Homo sapiens: one gene and its partners. The protein of the gene in region 2 interacts with the protein of the main gene of each other region in a pairwise test. Each region holds a gene or a part of one and is shown on either strand. Other genes may lie near its edges. The genes, in order: EFEMP1, RIC8A, MAPK8IP3, SLC2A13, ZNF585B, ZDHHC17 and NECAB2.

Region 1 (3,500 bases), on a different chromosome or scaffold from region 2:
CCTGCTACTGTGTGACTTGGGCACATTTCTTAAGTTGCCTGGGTTTCATATATACACACACACACACACACACACACACACACATATATATTTTTTTTGTTCTGCTCAACAGTCCAGAGGAAGTAATACACTTTTGAGGTGAGCTAAAGAGAGTAAAAATATTGCAAATTCTGAAATAGAAATACAAAACTTTATAAGCAGCTAAAAGGCAAATTCTAACAATATCAGCTTATTTCCCTCTATGACTTCATAGCACAAAAAGTTTTTCTTATCATGACTTTTACTGAATCATTGCTGACAATTTGGCTAATCCTGGACCTAACTACACTACTGAATGAATTGGCTTGTGGTTGACGGCCTTCATTTTGGACTCTGCAGACCCATCCAGGATGTAGAGTTCATGTTTGTCTTCTCAGAAATTGGGTGACTTTGAAGCCAAGTTCATTTGAGCTTTGAATGCCAAGTCCCCTAACCTGTGCAAGCTTCCAGAATGACAGCTTGGCAGGATCTGACTTTCAGGGGAAGAATGCTTTGCATTTCTGAATAGTGATGTCCCTACAGTTTACTCAGAAGGGCAGAGGCAGCTGTCCTGAGGTAGCCTCTTTCAGTTTTGAGTGTAATGGCATGATGTGAGGCCTCTCTCGGTGGGGTTTGAGCTTTGTGTAAAGCTGAGTGAACCGTGAGGAGGTCAGGGACATCAAGTGTCTGTGGCATCCCCCTCAGGATGTCTAATGCCTTTTGAATTATATAACGAAATGTGCACATGCAATGGACCCTGAAGGTCATGAATCTAGTTAAATGGCCCTCCTCTTGTTCATGTGGAAAGTGAAACCCAGGCAACTCAAGAAATGTGCCCAAGTCACACAGTAGCAGGAATAGAACCAGAAACCAGATCTCCTGATTTTTATTTTAATGTTTTGACATGCACTTGGCTATTCTGAAACTTAAATGTGCACACCAGTCACCTGCAGTTTTTGTTGAATGTAGATTCAGACTCAGGAGGTCTGGGTTGCAGCCTGAGATTCTGCATTTCTCATAAGCTCCCAGGAGGTGCTGACATACCTGGTCACTGGATAACACACTGAGACGCAACATGCTAGAGCACCCTTTCTAATTATTAGAGCCAGCCTGCACCTAATATTTCAGTTATTTTTATTTCTTTTCCTTTTTCTTGGTAACACACTAAAAAGGCAATGTAACAACTGAACTACATTAACTGGATTTTAGAACAGAATTCCCATGGGTAAGCGTTTGTTTTCATAAATGGGTACATAATCAGATAAAACAACAGCAGTCACAGGAATTGGACTTTATTCCATACTATCTGGGAAGAGTTTTACCTTCACAGTTGAGCCTGTCACTGCTTAGCTCATATCCTTGATTGCACTGACAGATGAATGAACCAAGAATGTTGTAGCACTGCTGAGCACATTGATTGCTGGCATCACATTCATTTATATCTGAAAAAAAGTTTTATATATATATATATGTATATGTATATATATACACACACATATATATATAGACTTTAAACATATCCTTACTCTTTTGTACCTACGTCATCTGCTGACAAGTGAGTAATTCCCTAGCTGAATTATTTGCCCTGCAGAAGCTCACTGGAGAACATCCATTTAGGTTTCATATTTGTTGGAACAACTACAAACGTCTGTCATATACTTCTTTTGGAAATACCGAAATATTTTTTCTAGGAATGACAGTTAGTTTGATGTTTGATGAATCTTTCCAAAGGAATTTAATGCTTCTAATAAATATACACTCCGGTATCGATTTTCTTTTGTTGTTCAGATACAAAATGCCAATTCTATAAATAATTGATATAAGACACTTATACTGATATGGTCTCTCAGCATGCTGTACTGAAGATTTATCTGTGCTATTTATTACTTTTTAAATGGGTTCTGTTAAATTCCATTACAATTATAACATAAGCCTTTGAGACCCATACGGAGTTTTGCAATGCTCTAAAGCACTGAAAATATTGTGAAAAGGCATTTTTCCTACACTAGATTTTTTCCATGTCATGCCAATCTTTTAATTGTGTGCCGTGACATTGCATTCTGAAAGGGGAGAAGAGGCATGTAAAAATCAGATGCACTTTCAGTGGAAAGTTTATATACTTGAACTTGTAGTAACCCCTTTGGCACTTTCAGCATTATATCACACACTGCTGATTGACTGGTGTATGTATATCAATTGATTTGTAGTTTTAAATTTGTTGATCTATCCACAGAGGAGAACTAAAACCAAAGTTAAAAAGTTTTCTGTTCACATCTTGATGTGTTTTAAGACACAGATTGGTTATTATCTTTTAAGCTTTATGATTGCTGAAGGGAAGTCGATGGAAACTATTTACTCAAGAACATAGAAAACTGGAAATACTGCAACATGGCATGGGGTTTCCTTTTGTGAAGACAGAAATCAGCAAGTTCTCAAAAGGCTTACCTACGCAGGTATAGTTGTTTGCTGCCAATTGAAACCCAGGACTGCACTGGCAATAAAATGAGCCTGGTGTATTCACGCATCTTTGGTGGCAATATGGAGGGATGGTACATTCATCTATGTCTAGGTTATCAGGCACACACACAAAGAGAACCAAATTATTGAATTAGCATTCTCTGAAAAGCATTATCTAGAAAACCTATGTAGAGAAAATCTCTTTTTAAAAGTAATAATTTCCTATTTTGTTAAAATTAGGGTATATGTATTTTAAATATACTTTGTATTCTGAGTTAAGAAGTTAAGAACAAAGACTCAATGTTCATGCCATTCAGTGGTAAATAAACTTGGTGGGTGGATTGAGATTTAAAGAAAACAAAATAATTGAGACTATTGCATATATATATAAGATGTCAGTTTGGGGAGCTAAAAGCTTATATATAATTACAGAAGTAAAAAAGAACTACTGAAGTGCATGGTGCAGCACAAAACAAAGAAGAAAGAGTTGTGGGCTGTGCTCAACTGGTGACCTTGGCTAAGTCACTTACGCCTTCAGTATCTTGGTTTTTCTTCTATAAGATGTGGATAGCAAGGCTTGCCATGTGTATCTTAGGACGTTTTTGTGTATCAAATAAAAGAACACTGTGGAAGAATTGGATGCTAAATAAGTTACCTCTTGAGAGTGCTCTTTTGACACTTTGATGAAGTGTTCCAGCCTGTGTCCTTCTCATATAAATATTTTCAACTATAAAATGCTCAACTAAGAACTTGCTAAGTAGGACTAACATCTTAGAAGCATAATAAAATTTCATTAATTCATGATTCTACACTTTGTGACAACTTCAACATGGCATGTGTAATTTAAAACAACCATTATGCATATACAATGTAATGCTATATAGTGACACTGCCTTGTGGTAAAACAAAACAAAACAAAACAAACCTTTATGCTGGGCTCTTTTGGTACTTTAATAACTAAAATTAAGTAGTGTGCTCAAGTGGCCTCAGGATAACCTGAGTCTGAATCTTTGTTCTGGCAATTA
Region 2 (2,453 bases):
CCAGCTCCTGCCATCTGCCACCTTCTGGTATCCCAGATAGCACTTAGGAACAGGTGCTTGATTCTGGAAGCTCTTGCCCATTTGTCATCCTGTCCCACCCTACAGGGGTCCACATGGGTGTGGAAGCAGGGACTATGGGGCTGTGAGTGGAGACCCGAGGGTGTGTTGGGGGTACACACCTGGCTTTGGCTTCCTTGTACTCATCTGTGTCTGTGTCCTCATCCTCTGAGTACTGGCCCTCGGGCCGGCCTCCTGCCATGAGGCCCCTGGCAGCCAGAAGGCCAGCAGCATTCCCATAGCCTGTGTACTTGATGAATCGGGGCACTGAGGGGCAAGGCAGAGGTCAGTGTGCAAGCCTGGCTGAGGTGGGGTGGGCTGGGACCTGGGTCTCCATAACTCACCACTCTCAGAGCACAGGACAAACAAGAACTCGGCAGCCACCCTCTTCACATCTGTGTCCAGGTGTGTCATGAGGCGGACAAGCTTGTTCCGCAGCATCTCCCCAACCTCAGGCCGTGTCCTCACATCCCGCAGAGGGGGCAGCACCTGGGGAGGTGGCCATCCCTAAGCTTGGGCTTAGAGCAGCCAAGGGTCTGTGATCAGGGCCGAAACCACATCCCCCAGGAGCACCAGCTCCTCAGCCTTATACCTGGGCCTTCAGGAACTTCCTGGCTGGGCGGTGCATCCGGGCACATTCAGTCAGCACGCTCAGCACGGGAGCTACACTCTCCTTCAGCCTGTGTGTCTGTAGAGGATTCTCTGTCACTGGGGCTATGCCCCTGCCTAACTTGTGACTGGCACAGAGTTACACCTCCCCACCACCCCTTCCCACCAACATACACAACAGCTGGTCCTGGCGGCAGAGGTTTGGGAAGAGGCCCCTCTGCAGTTAGTCAGCAGAAGGCCAAGAGTGGGTGGTGGGTGTCTGTGTCACTTTTGAAAAGGACAGGGATAGAGCGTAACTCAGAGGTACTCGTAAGCTTTGTGACTTGGGAGAAATAACTGCTTTAAGTCTAATTACTTCAACTATAAACCAGAGCTGGGAAGAAAACACAAAGCAATTAAAGCTTTAGACTCGCACACACATTGCCCTCAGATGTTGGTGGCAAAAAGAAACGAGAACCGAATCCCCGCTCTGTGTACTTCGTGGACAGAGCAGGGAGTTCTTGACCCTCCTAGCATAATGTGCCTGGACCCCAGCACCAGCAGTGGCAGCGACGGGCACAGACAACCCCCTAGCTGTGTGTCCAGTGCCAGCTCCCTATCCTGACTGGCTCGCAGGCACCTTGTGTGTCCCTTGCTTAGGCAGGTAGATTCCCAGGAGGTCTACTAAATCTCGGTTTATTGTACTCCAGCCTGCTTTCTGCAAGCTCCTGGAAGATGGTTAGAGCCCCAGCTGTCCAGATGCCCTGTAGTGCAGTCACAGCAATCAGAAGGAAGCTTTGATCTGAGGTTCCTATGGGTCTCCTCAGGATGCTGAGGGACAACTATGCTTGTAATCAAGGGCTGCCTGTGTTTAAGACTTAAAAGTAGGGACTGGGGGGCTTCTCTGGACCACTCAGTAAAGATCCCCAAAGATTTAAGAAGTGAAACCTTCAAGTGTGTGGAAGGTGTCCACATGCTTCTCATGGAGGAAGGGTCTGGCTTCTTGCCAGGCTGGACCACAGAACAACCGGAAGAGTCGCCCATATCACACCACCAAGACAATCTCCACGTACCAGTGTGGACAGTGTGGAAGCACTGACCACATCTGTGCAGGAGAACCAGTGCCAGAGCCACTGGGGGAGCCTGCACAGCCATCCCCAGCCTACCTTGTGCAAACGCTTCTCTAGGAAGATGAGGAGGGCACGAATCACATCCATATTCACTCCCATGAACTCCGTGGAGTCTCCATGTGGCTCCAGGGTGAGGAGAACATCCAGACACTTGAGGGGCAAGTTCCCCAGGAGGTTCACTGCGTGGCTGGGGACAGATGGAGGTAGGGGTTTCAACAGGGCTAATCCCTGAGCACAGGTGCAATCTTTGTGACTCCGCTGAACCACACATTACATGAGCTGGCATCTGAGTCCCAAAGGGGCAGCGCTAGGGACCAAAGCCAAGGGCAGGGACTGATCTGAGAGGCACTGCCACTCAGCTGTACAGTGGGGTCCCCTGGGGAAGTGGGGGCACTGAGACACACTGCCTCCCCGACCCTGTCTGAGCCAAAGCGCCAGACCATCTCTGGAAACCCAGACCAGCCTAGGGGCAGGTAGACCAAAAACGGGGACAAGGAACCAATGTGCCCTAGTAAGTACCATACTGTTGCCACTACCCAAGGCCCAGTTGGCACATTCCTGCCCCCAAATTCATGGCTATGTCCAGTCTCACTCACCCAGACAACGTCAGACTCTCTAGGGTGGGGCCTGGGCTCTCAGGTGGTTCTGGTTCAGAGCCGGGGTTGAGGACGACCATCT
Region 3 (2,829 bases), on a different chromosome or scaffold from region 2:
ACGCTGACCGCTCTCCTCTTCTCCCATGCTCCTCCCATGTCCCCAGCTGTGGTCCTGCACCGAGGCCAGCTCCTGGGGCTCCGAGGTAAGCCCAGCCACCTCGTGTCCCCTCACGGGAGCCTCTCCCACTCTCCACCTGTATGCGGGCTCAGCGCCTCTGGGTTCTCTCCCTGCAGCCAATAAGACATCCCCCACCTCTGGGGAGGGCGCCCGTCCCGGGGGCATCATCCACGTGTATGGCGATGACAGCAGTGACAGGGCGGCCAGCAGCTTCATCCCCTACTGCTCCATGGCCCAGGCCCAGCTATGCTTCCATGGGCACCGCGATGCCGTGAAGTTCTTTGTCTCGGTGCCAGGTGAGGCTGGGCCCCTCCTGCCATCCACATCCCCTGCATGCCAGTGGCCGCCGCCTCCCCCAGGAGGCCGCTGTCCTGAATCGCTTCTGCCATCCCAGGGAACGTGCTGGCCACCCTGAATGGGAGTGTGCTGGACAGCCCAGCCGAGGGCCCTGGGCCAGCTGCCCCTGCCTCGGAGGTCGAGGGCCAGAAGCTGCGGAACGTGCTGGTGCTGAGCGGCGGGGAGGGCTACATCGACTTCCGCATTGGTGAGCGGGGCCCAGGGACAGGGCTGAGGTTGGGCGCGGGGGGAGCCTGGCCGTCACTCTGCTGCTTTGCCCGCAGGAGACGGAGAGGACGACGAGACGGAGGAGGGCGCAGGGGACATGAGCCAGGTGAAGCCCGTGCTGTCCAAGGCAGAGCGCAGTCACATCATCGTGTGGCAGGTGTCCTACACCCCCGAGTGAAGCTGCTGCCCTGCCTGGCCCGACCTGTACATAGGACCCCCGACCACCTGACCCCCGCCCGGCCCGCGGGGTAGCCAGCCAGGCGCCGCCGCCCCTCTTCTAACCTCTCAACCTGCAGCTTTCACCTGAGTCTGGCCCCTCCAGCGGGCAGGGAGTGCGGGGATGCGGATCAGCTGGGAGGAGGAGGGGAGGGGAACTTCCACCCGAGGGGAAGATGCTCTCGGGACAGTTTCCCGGGCAGCTCCTGGCCAGCTTCCAGCCCAGAGTCCTCAAGTCCAGGGCACCTTGGGCCCAGCGCAGGCAGAATCCGAGGTGGTCCTGGCTCTACCCTGGGCCTCCTACTCCCCAGCACCCCTGGAGGAGGCAGGGGCTCCCCGCCGCCGAGGCTGCCTGCCCTGGGCCCACCTCTGCATGCTGCTCATGGGGCCACCCTGCCTCCTGGGCCCTCACTCTGCCTAGGGGAGCTGGGCCAGGCACTAGCCTTTGCCCAGGGAGGTGGGCCTCAGGCTGCCCAGGTGCCTGCACCCCAGCCGGCCTTCTCTGGGGCCTCCCCGTCGTCAAGCCTCTATCCTGTCTGTCCCCACCCCAGCTGTCCCCTGCCCAGGGAGCTGGCATAAAAGCACGAGGCCCGGCTCCCTGGGGCAGCTGCTTGAGAACAGAGACTGCTACCCCATCCTGCCCATGCAGGCAGGCTCTTGCCAGCCCCGTTCTGACCCGTGTCCCCCCAGGCTCTGCCTGGGCAGAAGACTCACCTTGGAGGAGTGGGCCCTGGAGTCCTGTCCCTCCCAGAAGCCCCCAGGGTGGGATTTCTCAGGCTGCCAGGGCAGGCCCAGGCCTCAGGAAGAAGGGGAGGCCCCTGGCCTCTCCGGGATCAGTCCTAGGACACAGGCTCAGCCTCAGGTTGATGGGGGATGATGTGCTCCCGGGGCCTGCCTCCTGCACGGGGCTCCACGGAGCCCAGCTCCCAGACACGCTACTAAGTGCCTAGGGTTGCCCGCTGTGGCCTGCTTCCAGGGAGCAACAGAGAGGCCACCAAGCAGAGGCCCGTGGGGCTGAGGATGGAGCCGCCCCCAGCCGACTCCAAGCCCGCAGAGGGCAGACGCCACCCTGGACTGCTCTCCCTGCCCAGCTGGGCCTCTCTGGCCTATTCCTACCTTCCAGGCCCACTGCACTCCTGTCTGGGAGGCCCTTATGAGGGCAGCCCAGCCCCCGCACCCACCCCCAACCAGAGAAGCACAGATCTTGGGGAGCTGCCCCACAAGCCCCGCTGGCCACCGAGGGCTGCAGCCGCTGCGCTGCCGGCTTCTCCCCACCACCCTGCCACCTCCACTGTGATGTATGTCCGCTCCCTCGTCTGTTCCCCCAGGATCTCGAAGTGACTCCGGGCTGAGCAGTGGGGCGGCTGGGGGAGGGGTGACGATTCTCCTCAGGCTTTGGCCCTGCAAGCAAACCCACATATCTGCTCTGTATGTAATAAATGTCTTAACGTCGTAGCTGCCTGTTCCTGGGCCCAAATCGAAACGAAAACGAGGACTTTATTATAAAAAAACGTTGGACCACGTTGGGCTGGGCACCAGGACAGTGTCCTGGCACGTTTCCAGGCGAGCCGCGCAGGCTCCTGGAGCAGCTCCTCGGGCAGGAAACCCTGTACGCCAGGGATTGGAGAGGCCTGCGCCACCCTCCATGCAACGTCCAGACAGGTGGATGTTCAGCAGCCCGTCCAAAGGGATGCTCCAAGCGCTGTGGGGTGGGGCCAGAAGCCCGCCCACCTGGGCCCTGGAGGAGGCTGGAGTGTGAGAGCCTCTGTGACGCGCATCTGCCGGGCTACTCATACAGCCAGTGCCCAGCGCTGTCCTCCCAGCAGAGGAGCTCGTCTGCGCGGAACCAGAGAGCGATCTCGCGGCGGGCACTCTCCACCGAGTCGCTGCCGTGAATCAGGTTCCTGCGCGGAAGAGGCGCGTGTGAGCGTGGGAAAGAGACCTCCGGCACGGGTACCACGCAGGCTGAACAGGGGGAGGCCGGACGGG
Region 4 (2,778 bases), on a different chromosome or scaffold from region 2:
GGGTAAAGGGAAGTAACTATCATCTTTCTGACAATGATGCTTCTGATGTGGAATAATTTTCAGCTGCTCATATATTTAGTTATTTAAACAAACTGGGGGGAGAAGAACAGCAATTGGTGACTTCACTGCCCTGCTTCTAATCTGGTTCTTTCCACAGCCTAGTTTTGATTGACTTCATATTCTAGAATACTTGATTAGGAGGAAGATACAACCATGATGACTTTTTTTTTCCACAAGGAACAATATTTTAAAAAATATTTACAGAGATTTTAATCTAATAATTCTTAAGCAAATGTGTGTAATGCCTTCCTGAAATAGTCTAAAATGAATATTGTACCCAGTGACTTCAGTGGTATCCTTTTTTCCTAAGACCATTTATAATTATTAGTGGCAACAGAGTCAGTGCTAATCTAGCCAAATTACATATGTATAATATATTTATAAAGGATTCTGGGAGATGGTCCAAGGGTGTTCTGTGTCAAAAGATGGCCTATTGGCCCTCAGTTTTCCTACAGAGTAGTGGCTTATCTCTGATCAGCTGTTACAAACTAAATTCCATGTAAGCTTTCATCAACAAATTCCAAAGTGCCTCCTACAAGGGCACAGCTGTCCGTATCTCCTTTGGATTCCATATTTTTGTTTCTCTCCAATTCAGATATTGGGAGTTCTTCAGATACTGACTCTGCACACTATCTTTTGAACATTATGAAAATATAATCTGTCGGGTTGTTTTCATACTTCTTTTTTTTGCATCAGTGATAAGGCATACATTTGCGCAGATGAGCTAGGAAGTTTTGAGAAGTACCTTTTATGTTCAGAAAGTAACAGATTAAAGGTTTTTATGGGTTCCAAATTGGTTAGTCACTTAGGTATGCAATTATAAATGCAAAATAGTGCCAGATCTTTAACTGTATATCAGGGTCAGTTTTTGTTCATGCCCAAATCACTACACCTTCCTCATTGGCCTTGGAGTCCTACTATTTCGTGCCTTCATTTGTGTTACATACATAGCTGCAAGCAAACCATTTTTCCCCTTTCTTTTATTCAAACAATAATTTTTGAAACAAAAAAGAGGAAGGAAATCAGTGGCAGAAATAATCCTGCTGTTATTGGTGTTTGTTTAATAAAAATAATGGGACTTTTTTCTTAACTTTTTATTAGCTCTTCCTAAGGGAAATGTCACATATTATTATTTAATTGTACTTGTCTTTTTTTACTTTAAGAGCATAAACTCGTTTTTATTTTGCACACTTTTCTCATTTTCCTGAGAATTTACCAGAAAAAAAAAAGATACATAGATTTGTCTCTGTGTTTTTCTTATTCTTGGCTTAGTTTTTCCTTCTTGTGTAAAAATTGAGATTGCCTATTGGAACAGATAATTGGTTCTAATATAGCACGTCTATAAGAAATGCAGGCTTAATTATATTTCCACAATGTCTTTCCAAGGTATTCATTGGTTTTTATGGTAATTCATCACTGAACTCTTAATTTTTGCTTTTCTATTAAGAACTATATAGTATGTACAAAATTACTTGATCACAAAATTACTTGCTAGTTCCAGGAAAAATATGAATGAATCTTCTGTGGCCAGTTAGGAATACATCAGTTTGATGCATTTTTAAATGGCTCTAAACATCTAATAAGGTACTGTATTTGGAGAGAAAAGGTGGCTATCTCCATATTCAAAATATTTCTTCCAGTCTCCAAGATACTCTATTCTTTTAATGTCTGGCTTGTTCCTATCACAGTTATCAAGCTGAGAATACAGCTGAGGAAGTTCATTCTCTAAGTCACCAGAGGTATAATATGTGCTTAAACTGTCAATTTAGTGCCCTAAAAATCCATTAACCAAAAACAAAAACGTTTTCTCCCTTTGGTCATTTCATATAATAAAAAAAATTAATATTTTATAGAGGTTTTTTCCTTGAATTAGGTGCTTTAACAATTGATTTCCAAGGGAATATTAGTATTGATTTTTTCCTCAGAAAAGCAGATATGATTTAATAGGGAAAATTATTATTCTATTGATATTTCTTATCTCATAAGAAATTTCTTATCTAATATTTTACACAGGTAAATTGAAGTGAAAAATAAGCTACTATATGGTACAATCAAAATATAATAAGGAGAAAAAGTAGACCAATAAAGTGCTCTCTAAAAATTTATTTTTTGGACTTAATCAAAATAATTGCCTCAATCCTTCTCTTTATTGTATATGTAGCCTTAACTAACTATATACTTATAAACTCAGCTGGGCTGATGCACAGTAACTTTATTAAAGGAGAAACTGGACTCTTGTTATTTCCTAAAGCAGAACATGGCCTGTTCTCCCTGATATAAGAAAACAATGTTTTCAACTTTATAACCATAAATGCACATAATAACAGGGAAAATTAGCCACAGTTCTCCTCCCCTACTCCCCTGAGCCCCTACTTTAAAGGACTATTTGTTATTTATATAGTGTTAAAGATAATATTCCATATCTTTGAAGTATAAGACAGAGAGGCACAGTATAAGAATTATTTATAACTTTTTAGAAACAATTACTTGAAAAGGAACCTTATACAATTAGGGTATTATTTTTAGATTTGGTGAACATTTATAGTATATTAAAAATTAAATGTTTAAATTTTGCAGGTTTTTTTATATTAGGCACCTTTTAAGTTCCCAGCATATTTGGCTACCACTATCAACTTGGAAACATTCCATTTGTAGTATCATCAAATATATATTTTGTAGGACAATTTATATATGATGTGATTTGACCTACCATATTAA
Region 5 (3,500 bases), on a different chromosome or scaffold from region 2:
GTAGTGTGATAAAATGGCCAATATTGCATTTAATGATTTCTGTTCATTTTTACTTAAAATAGTTCAAAGATACATTATTAATTAAAAAAATGCTAATAATTTGTATAATTCTTTGTACATGATTCTTTTCATAAGGATGAACAACATGTTTTCATCCCTTTAGGTGATTTTCATCTTAAATCCCTTTTGATCTGTTCCTAAATTGCAGCCCTAGCTTTCTTTTGGCTCACTCTCTTATTTTTAAATGAGGACAAAAGCAGTCCTAACCTCTGAGAGTTAGCCTCGTACTATCAATTAAGCCTCAGTGTTGCTAGAAGCTAACCTGGCAAGGGCCAGCTAATTCATGGTGTTCTCCATGGTGCTACACAAAAACAATCTCTTAGAACACCAACAGCAAACAAGACCAATCTCTGACCATCATGGTGTAAGATGATACCAAGACCACTCTGTCGTTATATTTGAGCATAGACAAAAATCAGAACATTCTTCAAACCACAAAAGTGAATAAAAGTCTCCTTATTCTGCCTAATGCAAGAGACTGCTGCTTTTTTCTTTTGAGACAAAGTCTATCTCTTTCATCCAGGCTGGAGTGCAGTGGCATGCTCATAGCTAGGTGTAATCTCGAACTCTTAGGCTCAAGTGATCCTCCTGCCTCAGCCTCCCGAGCAGGTGGGTCTATAGGCACACAGCACCATGCCAGACTAATTGTTTTTCTTTTTTTTTTTTTTGAGACAGAGGCTCACTCTGTCACCCAGACTGGAGTGCAGTGGTGCAATCTCAGCTCCCTGCAACCTCTGCCTCCTAGGTTCAAGCGATTCTCCTGCCTCAGCCTCCTGAGTAGCTGGGATTACAGGCGTACGCCACCATGCCTGACAAATATTTTTTATTTTTAGTAGAGACGGGGCGTCACCATGTTGGCTAGGCTGGTCTCGAACTCCTGACCTCAGGCAATCTGCCTGCCTCAGCCTCCCAAAGTGCTGGGATTATAAGTGTGAGCTACCGCACCAGGCCCAAACTAATTTTTAATTTAATTAAATTTTTTTTTTGGTAGTGACAGGGAATCACTACATTGCCAGGGCTGGTCTTGAACTTCTGGCCTCAAGCCATCCTCCCACCCTGGCTTTCCAGTGTTGGGATTACAGGTGTGAACGACCGTGCCCAGCCAACTGCTGCTGCTTTACCAACTGTAACTTTAGCCTCAAGCTATCCTTCCTATCTTCTAGAATAAAATTATTAAGATACTCAATCCTAAAACTGCCCAAGAGCAACTAAAGTAGAGGTTCACTGAGGTGCAGATGAGACTCTCACCACGTGACTAGAACCCTGAAATGAAATTCCACTACTTCTAATATATCCAATAGAAAGAGAAGGCATGACAATATCCACTGCGATATTGTTCATAATAGTTTCTGTATTTTACCAAACAAACATTAAAACAGCAATGTACAAAAAAGTTAATCTGCTATGCCATTCTGAAATCAAGAGAAAAAAATTGTAGTTGTTTTCATTTGTATACAGAACTAAGCAATCAAAGAAAATGAATAAAGCAGGTTATCACTACCGGGAGACACAGGTAGATGGAAGGCAGAGGTGGGTGAACCACAGTCCCATCTCTTTCACCATAATACTTTTCAATATATTGCTTTTCATATATTTCTAACTTTTGAACTAGGTATATGCATTGCCTATTCAAAAGATTAAACTATTCCTAATAAATTATCACAATATCTTCAGATGGATAAGAAATAACAATACACCCAGGCCGGGCATGGTGTCTCACACCTGTAATCCCAGCACTTTGGGAGGCCGAAGCAGGTGGATCACCTGAGGGTCAGGAGTTCGAGACCAGCGTGGCCCAGATGGTGAAACACCATCTCTACTAAAAATACAAAAATTAGCCAGGCGTGGTGGCTCGCACCTGTAATCTCAGCTACTCAGGAGGCTGGGGCAGGAGAATTGCTTGAACCTGGATGGCAGAGGTTGCAGTGAGCGGAGATCATGCCATTGCACTCCAGCCTAGGCAACAAGAGCAAAACTCCATCAATAAATAAATAAATAAATAAATAATTTAAAAAATAACATTACATCCATGAAATAAGAACGGGATGGCAATAAAAAAAAATTTAGGAAACAGGCTGGGAACAGTGGCTCATGCCTGTAATCCCAGCACTTTGGGAGGCTGAGGTGGGCAGATCACCTGAGATCAGGAGTTCGAGATCAGCCTGATCAACACGGAGAAACCCCGTCTCTACTAAAAATACAAAATTAGCCGAACGAGGTGGCACATGCCTGTAGTCCCAGCTATTTGAGAGGCTGAGGCAGGAGAATCTCTTGAACCCAGGAGGCGGAGGTTGCAGTGAGCCGAGATCATGCCATTGTACTCCAGCCTGGGCAATGAGAGCAAAACTCTGTTTCAAAAAAAAAAAAAAAAATTTTAGGAAACAAACTAGAGTTTTTAAAAATTAAAACATTAAGTTAAAATGTGGATAGTGGTAATGAGAAGCTCAATAGAAGGGCTGGAAGGCAAAAGGTGTCAAAGTTACCCAGAATGGATAGCAGGAAATACATAGAAAATAGTAGAGAAAAGAAATGGAGAAGCAACATCTGAAAAACAAGTTTCAGAAAGAAAACAGAGAAAACATTTGTGTTTGAGGAGGTGGTTTAGGAAGAAATGAAAAAATGCTTTCAAAATCTCAAACAAAAGTCACTTCTAACAAGGAATTCTATTTGCAGCCAAAACATCAATATAGCGTGATGACAAAATCAACAACAGTTTTCCTTGACAGTGCACCTCTCCACTGTCACACAGGTGGCCTCCAGAGACGGAGACATTACCCACGTGTTCATTCTTGACAGGAAGATCAAGTTTTCTTTCAGGAGCACCAAGTCTAGAGTCCAGCTGGTTCCTAAGGCCTGTCTGCCTCTGCCCTAAGGCTGTGGTGACAGATTAGAGCTATCTACTCTTGGACTGAAATTCCACCCCTTGGGACTCCTCCTCCTCACCTCATAGGAGCTGCCATGATCCTCTGGAGCCAGGGCTGAGGATTTCTGGGGTGAGGTCCAACTAGCTGGCATGGCCACACTGGATCTCAACCCTTTTTGTCTAGGGTGCCTGAAGTTTAGTGGTCATCTGTGAACTCAGCAGAGCTGCTCCGAAGAGGTGGGCTGGAGTCTGGAGGAAGGTCTGGCCCAGGGACTCCCCAGAGACACCCAAGAACCTAGAAAAACAATGTCCACGTAGTCATTCAACATTCACTACATAAACACTTCCTGGATACACCAAGGTGCAGGTCCCTGCGCTAGAAACCAGAGCAGTGGTTCCCAAACGTAGGTATGCATTCAAGTCACCTGGAGGGCTTGTTAAAACATAGTTTAAAATTCTCAACTTCACCCCTTCGATGGGTCTAAGGTAGGCCCTAAGAATTTTATTTTCTAATAAGTGCCCAGGAAATGCTGATGCTGCTGGTACAAGAACCACACTTTCAGAACTGTGGAGAACA
Region 6 (3,500 bases), on a different chromosome or scaffold from region 2:
CTTGATTTTTCAGCTTTAGATAGTTTTCTTTGATTCATGGCTACTATAGATGAGGCTCTCAGCATATTTTCATTTCAACCTTTTTCCATTTTCCCATTTTGTTGTTAATTATATCAATTTTACATTGTCAGGGTATATAACATTTCCATTCAGTTTTGTCATTCTATTCTTCACAATCGTTTTGTTTTAGTTATATTGTTAAATATATTTAGTGCTCACTACCAATTCTTTTGGATGATTTTCAGGAGAAAAAGGGGAAAATGCTAAGTTATGGAGCCCTGTTGATCATGGAATTCCCATAAGCTTTTGATCTGGGCTTGTTAATTCTTCCTAATAGAGAATACCCATACGTCCAGGCTGAACTTGGAAAAGAAGTACCAAGTTTTAAATCCCGACCCAAAGAGAGAAAAGGTTGAATTTCATTTTTCTTTTAGTACTCTAGAGATGTGCCATGATTTTACATTTTTTTATTTATTGATATTTTTAATACTATCATTTTTTAAAAAGGATATGAAAACACAACTAAGAAGAAGGAGAAACTTAAACATAAGAATTTACATGCTTGCTTTAATTAGACCTGAAATTTGGTTGAGGTCCTACGGAAATTAGGAGTAAAAGAAGTCACAATAGTTACTTCTCATATAAGAAATAAGGAAGTTTGTTGTTTCTTCAGAAAACATATTTTTTTTAAGCCACAGGATTATTTTAAAAAATGTACTTGCATATTGGAAATGTTGAGTGAGGTTGCAGAAGATATTCCTGACAACACTATTAAAGTAAATCCAGAAATGGATTTGTAATGGATAAGGCATAACATTCTATGACAGTATGCATGGTGAGTGACTAAGTTAATGACATCCAAGGAAATGCTTTACTTATCTAATGTAGTGGTTCTCAGATTTTTTTTCTTCAATATGCTTAGATAATGTTCACATTTGAGACATATTCCTATTGCTAACAGTGGCTCACAGAGAACTGATGCATAGAGATAGTGTTTTACAGTGTGCTTACTGTAACTCTCTGCTCTCTCCACTGATTGGTGAATTAGGTAACACAACTTGGATTAGAACTGCTTGCTTAATGTAATTCAGGAATGGGAGATGGGGTAGAGAAGAAGAAGAAACTTAATATTTATTGAATATCCATTATGTTCTCAGCTGTTGACTAGATGCTTTGCACACATTATTTAATCTTCACAGAAGTCTTATGAAGTTATTTGTATTTCACATTTTTTAATGAGGAAGCTAAGACTAAGAATTAAAGTAATTTAGCCTACAATCTCATAGCAATTATATGATGGAGCTAGGAAGTCAAAACCATGTCTTATTCTAAAGCCAAGCCTAGAAAAGTAGATAGATAAGCATGTCTTTTCCTTTAATAAATGGTTTTCGATCATCTACTCTGCTGGGCACTGAGAATACGAAGATGGATTTGAGATGATTTTTATTTTCAAAGTACTCCAGGTTAATGAGACACACATTTCAGGCATAGAGGATAATCAGTTCAGAATGGAGTGGGTTAGGAAAGGTAGTTTCAGAGCATTGAAACTGATAAGAGTCCCTGATACATCAGAAAGTCTTGCGCAAGGAGAATTAGATAACTAGGAAAGAGTTTCGGTTTAATAGGTGGAAGTTTTAGTTATAATTTGCTAAAAACTAAGTAGTAGTGGGGGAAAGATGGTGCCAGGGAAAGCAAAAAATTGAGTAGAAGAGGAAAAATAGTGGTTTATTACATGGTTTGGCTGGGAATAGTATTTATGCATATTTATAATAATACATATCAAGTATTAAATGTTTATATGAACCAGAATTACAATAGATCTCTTGAGAGGAAAGAATAGGAAAGGCGTGCATTTGTGATGTAGCAGAGAGGAAAGAGAAAAATTCAGATTTTTTGTACCAAGGAATTTCAGAATAATGCCTGAAACTGAAAAATCAAGAAGTAGCAATTCAAACATCTTATTTAAAGATATGGAGGTAAATATAAAAATAATGAGCCAAAAAATGGTGAAAATGGTGGGAAGTAAGGCAGGGGGATTGCTTTAGTGTGTTGCTTTTTCCACACAAACTGCAGAATCATTTAACTCTAAAAATGTACATGTGTAACAGTAAAAACTGAGTATATTAAAATGTCAGTTCTTTTTATTTTTTGTTTTGAAATGCCTAGGAATAAACAGTTTTGTCGTTCTCTCTTATGCATTAGTATAAACAAGTTTTTCAGAAACTTAATCACTTAACCTATCCTTTGTGGTTGAAAGGTCAGAATAGGTTAAGAATTTTAAATGTGAAACATTGAAAGGCTGATTAAAACATCTTAAAAGGGAATAATGTAAAAGCATGATATATGTTCACTAGAGTATATAGTGACAAGAGTTTCATTTTAAAGTTAAGAAAGAAAGTTTCATACATTATCCTTGATTGAGTAGTATTATATTCGCTTCTCCTTTTATATATAGATTAGATTTTTCCAAGCAAATTTGGTTAGGAACTTATAATTTAACTGTCTGACTTTTTTTCTTTTTACTTTATCAGGATGTAGATATGATGGATCAGAATGGAATGACGCCTTTAATGTGGGCAGCATATAGAACACATAGGTATGTAATGACTATAAAAAACTTATTTAGGCCATTTCAGCATAATACAATATGAAGTAAGAGAGAGGAAAAAGCAGTTAATACTATACTCACTAATATTTACAGTTTTTATTATGACTATAGTATATATAAATTACCATTTTGGATGTTCTGGTATCTCTGTGCTGTCTCTCCCTCACTGATTAGAGCTTCCTTAATCTGTTTCTCTTTTAACAATATCTAAGAAAAGAAGTTATCTTTTTTTAAAAATTAATTAATTTTTTCATGTGATTTACATATTGACAAATTTATTAATTAGTAAGTTGTCTTAGATCACTTTTGGAAGACTCCAAATTTAAATTTTAAAAAGTGTTATTCTTGAATTGTATAAGTATTAATGCCATTTCTAGGTCAAAAATAGAAAATATCAGGACCAAGTTGCTTATCCCCTGAAACTATTAATATATTATTTTATATGGTGTCATACATACTTAATACTTCATATTAGAATATTGTCTCATTATTGATTTTAAAGTTGTTGAGTAGGTTAGAAGTGTTCCAAAATGGAATGCTACTGTAAGCATAATCAGTTTAGTATTTGTAATGATTTCTATAATTGAAATTAGGGTTGTTGTTGTTGTTTGTTTTTTTTTTTTTTCCTTTTCAGTGTGGATCCAACTAGATTGCTTTTAACATTCAATGTTTCAGTTAACCTTGGTGACAAGTATCACAAAAACACTGCTCTGCATTGGGCAGTGCTAGCAGGGAATACCACAGTCATTAGCCTTCTTCTGGAAGCTGGAGCTAATGTTGATGCCCAGAATATCAAGGTAAAAATATTCTATATTGATAATACTGTATGAAATGTGGCTAATATGTGAATTCTGTAATAAAACAAGTTTTTCATAGACTGTCAGAGTTGAAA
Region 7 (3,500 bases), on a different chromosome or scaffold from region 2:
CCACACTAACCAGTAAACTCCAGTACACAGAGAATCATGCCTCATCCAGCTAATTCCCAGACCAATGCCTGTTTACAGATAATCCTCAAACTAACAATAATGCAATAGCTAGCTTTCTTGGGCTCACCATGCACTCAACATTTTCCATGCGTTCAACAAATATAGAGTATCTGCCCCCTGCCAGTGAATTTTCTCTCAATTTACATGGCCACCTGGAGGCAGGTGCTATTTAAGATAACCCACTGTGAGCAACTTGTCCCATGTCACACCATCGGTATGAAGTGGATCCAAAAACCAGCAGCTGGATGAGCCACCACTCCATAGCTTCCAAACGCCAAGTGGTCTCTGCATGCTCCCAACCCCAATCCCAGCCCCTAAGCCCTGACTCTCTCAGCACTGTTCTTAGAGTACAGAAGAACCCTTTCTTCTCCGCCCCATCTATGTGGCAAACTTCAGGTCCTTCCCTGAGGCAGCATGAGATGGCTGCCAATGGCCGGCATGAGGTTCTCAGTTACCTCCTCTCCCAGGCCACAGATGCAGCCATCTAGATGCCAAGCCATGCAGGAAGGAGGTGCCAGGCCTGGAGGTGCCAACGCTCTGGCCAGAGGCTGTGCTTCTGAGGTGGAGCTCCACAGAGGGGCCTCCACAGCTCCTCTGTGGAGGGGCTCTGTGGAGGGATGGGTGGGACACATGCCACCAGTCCCACCCATCGCCTCACCTTTTCCCTTCACTTGCAGTTGCTCTGGGGACACTTTTGGCCCTACCAGGAAGGTCTTGTGGGTTTGGATCAGATTGGGCCACCAGGGGAGGTGGCTTAAGAACATCAGGGACTCTGGGAGGCGGTCCCTAAGCTTCCACCCTCAGCTCCTTCCACCTGAACAGACCTGCTGAGCAAATGCCAGCAAGCTCATCCCCCACCTGCCCTGCAGCCACCTCCCCCCTCCTCAAGGATCTGTTCCTCCTTAAGAGAAACTATGTGAGTGGCATGGAGGTCAGAGACAAGAGGGAGCCCATGACAGTTCCTGGCCCCCAGCCTCTCTGCATAAACCCCTGGCATTACTTCCAGAGGATCTGCATTCAAAGCTGGGTGCTTGGGACAAGGGCCCTGAGAGTCCACATGGCACCTTCCTATGGATTAGAAAAAGACTCTCCTTTCTCTGCCGAGAGGATGAGACCAGTGTCAGTGCACATGTGTTGAAAGCGGATTGCAGCCTGGATTTGAAACCCTCCATTTCCTCGGGTGGGTGCCCTTGTGCAGCGCACAACCTGCCTAACCCGACATGGCAGACGTACTTGGGTTGAGAATGAGTCATTCTTAAACTTTAAAGGCTCCAGTGCTTCTGTCTGTGCTCCCAGCAGCTCTGCTGGAGCTCAACACAGGGTGAGAGCATAAGCTCAGGAGAGGGGGGGTCCTCAGATCTTGCCAAGGTTTCATGCCACCACTTTTCTCTTTAACCCCATAGAGCATAAAGTATCAGAGACCGGTAAAGAATATGAACGTGTGGGCACGGGGGGCTAGGGCCAATATCCCAAGATGCCCCCATCGCAGCTCAGATTTCAAGGTTACAGTGGGAAGAATTTCTGTCTTTCAAAGGAAAGGCCAAAAAAACCCCAATCCAACCACACATGCACAAACCAAAGACCCAAAACCTAACAACTAAAAGTCCGCAAAGTCAGCCACGAGATAAGTGAAATCGAAGTTGTTGCTTTCTGTGTTCTGTGACAGAGGATGCCTTCCGAGTGTCTTCGGCAAGCCTGAAGATAAAACCCAGGAATCCCAGTGTGGAGTCACACCACACGTGGAGTACCTTCCACGGACTCACTCCTTTAGTCTTCTTAACACTCACGACACAGGTAGTACTACCACTTCCATGTTAGAGAGGGGTAAACTGAGGCACAGAGCCCTTAGGGTACTTGCCTAGGTCCTACAGCTGAAGCTTGAACCCAGGCCATCTGGCTCCCAAGTCCAGGCTCTCAACCTAATCCAGGGGTAGGATCTTGTGGCGACATCGCCACCTACCCAGCAGGGGGTGGGTGCTGGCTCAGGCACCCCCACTTTGGGTGAGGGGCAGTCACCATGGGCATGACAGGGGTTGTGAGCCCCAATCCCAGCCTCCCTCTGGCTGGCTCATCTCCCCACGTGCCTGTCCAGGTACCTTGGGCCCCCTCTGCACACAGGGAGAGCAGGCAGCCAGAGACCAGCAAGGTGCCCCCTCGGCACACAGGGAGAGCAGGCAGACAGAGGCCAGCAAGGTGCCCCCTCACTAAGCTTTCGGCTGACATTTATCCTGAACGCCTGATCACGGCCCTAATGAATTCACTAATGAGGAAAAAACATGCCCTACGTAGGCCCCCAGTCCAATTAGACAGGCCAAGCGGGCCCGCGCTGGCACTTTTGCCAGAGACCCCAAGCGGGCCGTTTGCAGGTGTCTTTGCTAATTAGCACAAACTCACTCTCTGTCTCCATGACCTTTCAAATGCCAAGAGCCTGTCAGCCTGTCAGCGTCCATGTCCCTGAAGGGAAATGCTGTCTGCCACTCAGCCCTCTGCCACCCCCTGAGTTTATGTCCCAGGCTGCCAGTCAGGCCCCTCATGCTAACCTTCCCATAGGGACTGGGCATCCGGTATCCAGCTCAGCCAAACAAGTCTCTGTCACAGGAGCCACCCTGACAGGGCAGCCCTGAGCCTTTGTTCCTGTAATCTCTAAGTCCTAAGGGCAGCCTGGGGGGTCCTTTGAGTTTGCACCCCATCTCCCGCTCCCCTGAGGCATCCCATCCATCCTTCCTGTGGACACGTGAGGCAGGGCTAGCGTCAGTGTTGAGCAGTCCTGTGTGTGCTTGTGGGCCTATCGGCCTCCACATCTGCACCCCCTGCACACCTGTTCTCATCCCTGCACACCTGTTCCCATCCCCGCACCCACACCTCCCTGCACACCTGCTCTCATCCCTGCACACCTGTTCCCATCCCCGCACCCACGCCTCCCTGCACACCGGTTCACATTCCCGCACCAACACCTCCCTGCACACCTGTTCCCATCCCCGCACCAACACCTCCCTGCACACCTGTTCCCATCCCTGCACCCACACCTCCCTGCACACCTGCTCTCATCCCTGCACACCTCCCTGCACACCTGCTCTCATCCCTGCACACCTGTTCTCATCCCTGCACCCACACCTCCCTGCACACCTGCTCTCATCCCTGCACACCTCCCTGCACACCTGCTCTCATCCCTGCACACCGGTTCACATTCCCGCACCCACACCTCCCTGCACACCTGTTCCCATCCCTGCACCCACACCTCCCTGCACACCTGTTCCCATCCCCGCACCCACGCCTCCCTGCACACCTGCTCTCATCCCTGCACCCACACCTCCCTGCACACCTGCTCTCATTCTTGGATCCACACCTCCTTGACACCTATTCTCACCCCTACACTCATTCCTCTTTCCCCAGCCATTCTATTCCCACACCACTCCCCTATCTATACCCACACCAAGTCC

Evidence for each region.
Region 1: the proteins of RIC8A (region 2) and EFEMP1 interact in binary tests that used the Homo sapiens proteins (3 or more experiments, as listed by UniProt).
Region 3: the proteins of RIC8A (region 2) and MAPK8IP3 interact in a two-hybrid assay, tested with the Homo sapiens proteins (one large-scale study listed by BioGRID and IntAct).
Region 4: the proteins of RIC8A (region 2) and SLC2A13 interact in binary tests that used the Homo sapiens proteins (3 or more experiments, as listed by UniProt).
Region 5: the proteins of RIC8A (region 2) and ZNF585B interact in a two-hybrid assay, tested with the Homo sapiens proteins (one large-scale study listed by BioGRID and IntAct).
Region 6: the proteins of RIC8A (region 2) and ZDHHC17 interact in a two-hybrid assay, tested with the Homo sapiens proteins (one large-scale study listed by BioGRID and IntAct).
Region 7: the proteins of RIC8A (region 2) and NECAB2 interact in binary tests that used the Homo sapiens proteins (3 or more experiments, as listed by UniProt).

The regions. Positions count from the first base shown.
Region 1 is NC_000002.12:55,875,283-55,878,782, forward strand, and holds part of EFEMP1 (EGF-containing fibulin-like extracellular matrix protein 1 precursor), read right to left. Parts: intron 2,584-3,500; coding exon 2,464-2,583; intron 2,404-2,463; exon of another isoform or gene 2,335-2,403; intron 1,461-2,334; coding exon 1,341-1,460; intron 1-1,340. UniProt on the Homo sapiens protein: Binds EGFR, the EGF receptor, inducing EGFR autophosphorylation and the activation of downstream signaling pathways. May play a role in cell adhesion and migration. May function as a negative regulator of chondrocyte differentiation.
Region 2 is NC_000011.10:210,708-213,160, reverse strand, and holds part of RIC8A (chaperone Ric-8A), read right to left. Parts: intron 1,963-2,453; coding exon 1,812-1,962; intron 746-1,811; coding exon 650-745; intron 565-649; coding exon of another isoform or gene 547-564; coding exon 402-546; intron 325-401; coding exon 180-324; intron 1-179.
Region 3 is NC_000016.10:1,768,023-1,770,851, forward strand, and holds the end of MAPK8IP3 (C-Jun-amino-terminal kinase-interacting protein 3), read left to right. Parts: intron 1-46; coding exon 47-85; intron 86-176; coding exon 177-356; intron 357-454; coding exon 455-604; intron 605-680; coding exon 681-802; 3' UTR 803-2,329; downstream 2,330-2,829. Other genes in the region: NME3 (nucleoside diphosphate kinase 3), read right to left, coding at 2,627-2,744.
Region 4 is NC_000012.12:39,757,304-39,760,081, reverse strand, and holds part of SLC2A13 (proton myo-inositol cotransporter), read left to right. Parts: coding exon 1-56; 3' UTR 57-2,778. UniProt on the Homo sapiens protein: H(+)-myo-inositol cotransporter. Can also transport related stereoisomers.
Region 5 is NC_000019.10:37,204,037-37,207,536, forward strand, and holds part of ZNF585B (zinc finger protein 585B), read right to left. Parts: intron 3,219-3,500; 5' UTR 3,076-3,218; coding exon 3,004-3,075; intron 1-3,003.
Region 6 is NC_000012.12:76,812,615-76,816,114, forward strand, and holds part of ZDHHC17 (palmitoyltransferase ZDHHC17), read left to right. Parts: intron 1-2,531; coding exon 2,532-2,596; intron 2,597-3,242; coding exon 3,243-3,405; intron 3,406-3,500. UniProt on the Homo sapiens protein: Palmitoyltransferase that catalyzes the addition of palmitate onto various protein substrates and is involved in a variety of cellular processes.
Region 7 is NC_000016.10:83,974,744-83,978,243, reverse strand, and holds part of NECAB2 (N-terminal EF-hand calcium-binding protein 2), read right to left. Parts: intron 1-3,500. UniProt on the Homo sapiens protein: May act as a signaling scaffold protein that senses intracellular calcium.